Linked DNA regions of Homo sapiens: region 2 is linked to region 1. The links come from fine-mapping of genetic effects on gene expression. A gene starts in region 1. The other region holds a variant in brackets. All regions are shown on one strand. Distances are from middle to middle. Region 1 holds the start of WDR18 (WD repeat domain 18). Region 2 overlaps SBNO2 (strawberry notch homolog 2).

What was found. PIP is the estimated chance that this variant, and not a neighbour inherited with it, causes the effect.
Region 2: its variant is the best candidate, but not a certain one, in a credible set for the expression of WDR18 in skeletal muscle (GTEx, PIP 0.89).

What each region holds. Positions count from the first base shown.
Region 1 is chr19:982,428-985,324 of GRCh38, forward strand. It overlaps WDR18 (WD repeat domain 18), which reads left to right and starts at 1,918. Exons shown (of 10, transcript NM_024100.4): 1 at 1,918-2,136. The coding sequence starts at 1,927. RefSeq lists silencers at 184-573, 1,738-1,827 and enhancers at 1,512-2,453, 1,878-2,027, 2,058-2,237.
Region 2 is chr19:1,144,534-1,147,430 of GRCh38, forward strand. It overlaps SBNO2 (strawberry notch homolog 2), which reads right to left. Exons shown (of 32, transcript NM_014963.3): 4 at 2,776-2,887. Among named protein-coding and RNA genes, the nearest start is that of SBNO2, 28 kb to the right of the region's middle. The variant T/C (reference allele first, on the strand shown) is at 1,623.

The DNA.
Region 1 (2,897 bases):
CAAAACTTAGCTGGGCGTGGCGGCTCACACCTGTAATCCCAGCTACTCGGGAGGCTGAGACAGGAGAATCGCTTGAACCCGGGAGGCAGAGGTAGCAGTGAGCCGAGATCGCACCATTGCACTCCAACCTGGGCCACAGAGCAAGACTGTCGCAAAATAAAGAAAGAAAATAAAAATGAGGTTGGAGGAAACTCTGGAGGCACAGCAGGTCCTTGGATTGGACTCCCTCCCTCCCTCCCAGGATAAAATGAAATCCAGGCCTCGTTCACACGGCCCTGCACGGCCCGGCCCCGCTCCGTGGTCCTGCCCCAGGGCCTTCGCACGGGCCTGCCCCGCACACGGTTCTCTGGGGGTCGCTGGCTCCCCGCTCAAACGGCCCCTCCTGCCGACCAGGCGGGTCCCCGGGGCCGCCCTCCCTCTGGCCTGGGCTCGGGGTCGGTGGCTCGCGCCTGCCACCTGGCGGCCAGCGGGGCTGCGGCGCCGCACGCTCTGGCACCAGCCTCCTGCCCCGGCCGTGCCCTCCGCCGGGAGCCGCGGACCAGGAGTCGCACCGCCTCCGGGGACCGCACCCCGCATGCAGCCTCCAGCCCCTGCCTCTTGCTGCTCGAGGGCACACGACCCAGGTCAGCTGCAACCCCCGGGCGGAAATCCCGACTTTTAAATGAATGCTCCCTTTTTATCCCTTTTTAAGGGGTTGGCAACTAATTGCACATTTTAAATCATACTGTTTTTAGGCCGGACGTTGTGGCTGAAGCCTGTAATCCCAGCGGTTTAAGAGGCCAAGGCCTAAGCCCAGGTGTTGGAGACCAGCCTGAGCAACACAGTGAGACCCCCCATCTCTACTAGATATATATTTAGTATAAATAAATAATAGATATATGTTTTTCTTTGAGACAGAGTCTCATTCGCCCAGGCTGGAGTGCCTGGGATCTCGGCTCACTGAGACCTCCGCCTCCCGGGTTCAAGCGATTCTCCTGCCTCAGCCTCCCACCACGCCCGGCTTTTTGTACTTTTTGTAAAGACGGGGTTTCGCCATGTTGGCCAGGGTAGTCTCGAACTCCTGATCTCAGGTAATCCACCCACCTCGGCCTCCCAAAGTGCTGGGATTACAGGCCTGAGCCAAAGCGCCCGGCCTTTTTTTTTTTTTGAATGCCGTTTTCAGACATGGTCCGTGACGGGCAGCCGTGACATGAAGTTAGACCCTGCTTGGCTCGGACAGAACTGGCGACTTGTTTGACCTACACCAAGCTATCCGACTAATAATTTAGATGTTGAGGCCCCTAAAGAGGGGTCAAGGGGGAGGCAGATGTCGACCAATAAGGAAACACTGGGCCGGGCGCGGTGGCTCACGCCTGTAATCCCAGCACTTTGGCAGGCCGAGCTGGGAGGATCACTTGAGCTCAGGAGTTCGAGGCCAGCCTGGGCAGGACAGTGAGACCCTGGCTCTACAAAACTAAATAAATAAGGAAGCAGTGAATTCCAATGTATTCATCGCCAACTAGCCATGTTGCTGGGTGTGCGCTCTCTCTTTTAGGCGCAATGTGTCATTTAGGCCTGTGACGTCGGAACTTTATTATTTGAACATTTAAAAATAAATGAATCCAAGAGCTTGAGTCACTTGGCCAAAAATGCCCAGGAGGAAAAGGCCAAGTCAGGTACCCCGGCTCTAGAGCTACTAACTGATCGCCGGAGACCCTGGGCCTTGGAAGAAGTCGCCTCCCCAGATCTCTAAGCAGGCCGCGCGACCCTCGAGTCTCAGGTAAGCGGGAAATCCCACTTCACAAGAAAGCCCCTCTCTCCGAGGCACGGGCGCATGCGCGGGTCGGCCACCCGCTGGGGCCGCGGGGCCGCCGCTCTGGCCCGCGTGGGGCAGTCGTCCGCGTCTCGCTCATGATGACGCACGTCCGGGGCGGTGGGGAAGGCAAGATGGCGGCGCCCATGGAGGTGGCCGTGTGTACGGACTCGGCGGCCCCGATGTGGAGCTGCATCGTGTGGGAACTTCACTCGGGCGCCAACCTGCTCACCTACCGCGGCGGCCAGGCGGGACCCCGCGGCCTGGCGCTGCTCAATGGCGAGTATCTGCTGGCGGCGCAGCTGGGCAAGAATTACATCAGCGCCTGGGAGCTCCAGCGGAAGGTGCGGCGGTGCGGTCTCGCTGCTGGGGTCATGGGGCGCCCGAGGCTGAAGTCGGGGGATGGGTTGGTGGGGGCCGCGTGCACCCTTAGTCGGAATTGGCGTGGGGAGGGGAGGTGGTCTCCGTTCGGGCGCTCTGCGCATGCGCGGGTCTGGGGGCTTTGGGGAGATACGTGCGACCTGTTAGGCCGCTCTGCGCACGCGCGGGGCTCAGGCCTGAGCTGCTATGGGGGCAGTGGGGGAAAATGGGAGACGCTCCGGGGGGTCCCTTGGGGCAATTGCGCATGCACGAGTTCTTGGAGCGCGAAATTTGATTAAAAGGGGCCTATGAGCTCTGTGGATGTTGTGGTTCTGGAGGAAAAGGGAGAAGGACCAAGGTCTGGGGGAGTCTCCCATGAAGGGGTGGCGCAGGAAACTCATGTTTATTCCTCCAATAAAGCAACAGATACTCACCGTCGCCCACAGTTTCCCCTCTACTCCCAAGCCCAAATGCAGCCAGTCCCTGAAGCTACTCGCTTCCCCCGTGTGCCCGCTGAGATCTCTTGGGACTGGCTCTGTGCTCCAGCATTGCCTGATGGAGTCTACACACAACTCATAAATTTCTCCCATTTTATTTTAGTTTTGAGACAGGGTCTCACTCTGTCGCTGAGGCTGGAGTGCAGTGGTGCGATCTCGGCTCACTGCAGCCTCTGCCTCTAGGGTTCAAGCGATTCTCGGGCCTCAGCCTCCTGAGTAGCTGCAACTACAGGCCCGCACCAACCACC
Region 2 (2,897 bases), 160 kb after region 1:
AGACAGAGACAGAGACATGGAGAGAGACAGAGACAGGGAGACAGAGACGCAGAGACATAGAGACATAGAGACAGAGGCAGAGAGGGAAACAGACGAAGACAGAGAGGGCGACAGAGACAGAGGCAGAGAGGGAAACAGACGAAGACAGAGAGGGCGACAGAGACAGAGAGGGAAACAGACACAGAGGCAGAGAGGGAGACAAAGAGACAGGTGGAGAGGGAGACAGAGAGACAGAGGCAGAGACAAAGAGACAGAGACAGAGAGGGAGACAGAGAGACAGAGACAGAGAGGGAGACAGAGAGACAGGGGCAGAGACAAGCAGAGAGGGAGACACAGACAGAGACAGAGAGGGAGACAGAGAGACAGAGGCGGAGATGGAGACAGAGACAGAGAGACAGAGACAGAGAGGGAGACAGAGACAAAGAGGGAGACAGAGACAGAGACTGAGAGGGAGACAGAGAGATGGAGCATAGAGGGAGACAGAGACAGAGGCAGAGAGAGAGACAGAGGCAGAGAGGAAGACAGAGGCAGAGAGGGAGGCAGAGACAGAGAGGGAGATAGGCAGAGAGAGATTGAGAGGGAGGGAGACAGAGAGAGAGACTAGGAGCAGGGGGAAGAGGGAGAGAGAGAGACAGAGAAAAGAAAGAGACAGGCCGGGCACGGTGGCTCACGCCTGTAATCCCAGCACTTTGGGAGGCTGAGGCGGGCGGATCACCACAGGTCAGGAGTTTGAGACCAGCCTGACCAACATGGAGAAACCCTGTCTCTACCAAAAAAAAAAAAAAAAAAATTAGCCAGGCATGGTGGTGCATGCCTGTGGTCTCAGCTGCTCGGGAGGCTGAGGCAGGAAAATCGCTTGAACCTGGGAAGCGGAGGTTGCAGTGAGCCAAGATCGTGCCATTGCACTCCAGCCTGAGCAACAAGAGCAAAACTCTGTCTCAAAAAAAAAAAAAAAGAAAGAAAGAAAGGAAAGAGAGAAGGAACACACAGAAAGAGGCAGAGAAGGGGTGAAAGAGAAGAAGGGGGCGGGGCAAGGACAGGCTGACCCAGGGCTGGGGCTGGTAGGAAGGCAGTGGCGGTGAGGAAGGAGCCACTGCCATCAGTCGCACCCCGGGCTCCTCCCCTGTGCGTCCCCTGAAGGGTGGGGCACAGATGCCAGCTCTGGACAGGCGCCTCCCCTGCCTCAGTTTCCTTCTGTGTCCGGCTGGCATGGCGCAGCAGCTTGCCACACCTTGGCCAGGACCAGATCACATGGGGGTCCAGGGCTACTGCGGGTGAGGACAGAGCCCCTGTGCGCACCTCGCTGACCTCAGCCCCAAGATGAGCAGGGGCGCCCCCCTCCCCTGAACACAGCTGGTAGGCCAATTTCCAGGCCACACACTGGGGGCTACAGGACAGGAATCCACCCTCTTCCCGTCCCAGGGCCCGGGAGTCTGAGGCCAAGGTGTCTCAGGGCCTTGCTCCCTCCCACAGCTCTGACCCACCTCTTCCAGCCCTGGGGCTCCAGGAGAAACTGACCTGTGGCCACACCGCCCCAGCCCCGGCCTCCAGCGTGGCGCCAGCTCCCAATCTCTCCTGTCTCTTCTGAGGACCCTTGTGCTGGATTTCAGAGCTACCTCATC[T/C]CATCTTGATCCCTACCCAATGACATCCAAAAAGACCCTACTTTCCAGGAAGGTCCCCTCACAGACTCTACTGGGGAGGCGGACTTGACGGACGCGGTCACCCCAGCACAGACTCAGGGTCCGGCTGGCTTTGCCCCGCTCTGCTACGGCCCTGAGTGGGGAAAACTGGGCCCGGGGTCCACCCGGCGAGCTGTTTGCAGGGCCTGGGTCTGGGTGAGCCCTGGGACCTGAATTGGCTCCATTCTGCTGCAGCCACACCTGACCGCTTCTCTCTGGATCTGGCCGGCTTGCGCCCATCCCCCCAACAGCTCTGAGGCCCAGGCAGATCTCACATGCCCATTACACAGGGGAAGCGGAGGCTTGGGGGAGCTGAGCACCAGGTGACCCTCGCTCCCCGGCAGGCCCTGGATGTGGTCCGGCCCAGCAGCAGCCCCTGGCCCCGGGTCCCACACGGAGGCTGTGGTATCCGAACCGTCCCAGGGAAGCCGATCTCTGTGGCACTGGGTGCTCCAGAGCTGCCGAGAGGAAGCTGGGGCACTGGGAACCCCTTGGGGAAGGCTGTGAGGGTGGGGGTGGGGTCCGCCTGATGCCGCAGTGGGAGGCTGTGAGGGTGGGGGTGGGGTCCGCCTGATGCCGAAGGGGGAGGCTGGGAGGGTGGGGGTGGGGTCCGCCTGATGCCGCAGTGGGAGGCTGGGAGCCTCCCCGCGACCCTGGGGAGAAGGAGGTGGAAAGTTCTGTTCCTTTGGTATGTGAGTTCCGTTTTCAGGTGGCTGCTAAGGGGTTGGGACTCCAATGTGCAGGGTGTCTGGACCCGCCTAGAGGGAGGGCCGTGGGGGCAAAGGCTGCCAAGGGCATCTCTCCCAGCACCGCCCTCCCCGCAACTCCCTCTGTGGCATTGCCCAGATGCTCGCAGGGACCCCAAGGGCTGGGCGGGGCTCACTGCTGACACGAAGGGCCAGTCACTGGCTCTTCCCCAAAACCAAGCCACATCTCTGGGCTCCTACTGCCCCACCGTAAACCCTGCGGCCGAGGGGCCAAGCCGAGGTCACTGAGTCCCAGGCAGGCCTGAGCGAGAGAGGTCGCAGGGCAGCTGGAGGGGCGGCCCAGACTCCACCCTGCCCCCCACGGCGCGGTGAGCTCCTGGGGCTCCTACCTGAGCAAAGTCGCAGGTCTTTGGTGGCAAGCTGGAGGCGGTGGCCACGGGGGCATAGCTGGTGTCTGGGCAGGGCTGGCTGCCGAGGAAGGAGGCGGAGCTCATGAACGGGCTGGAGGGAG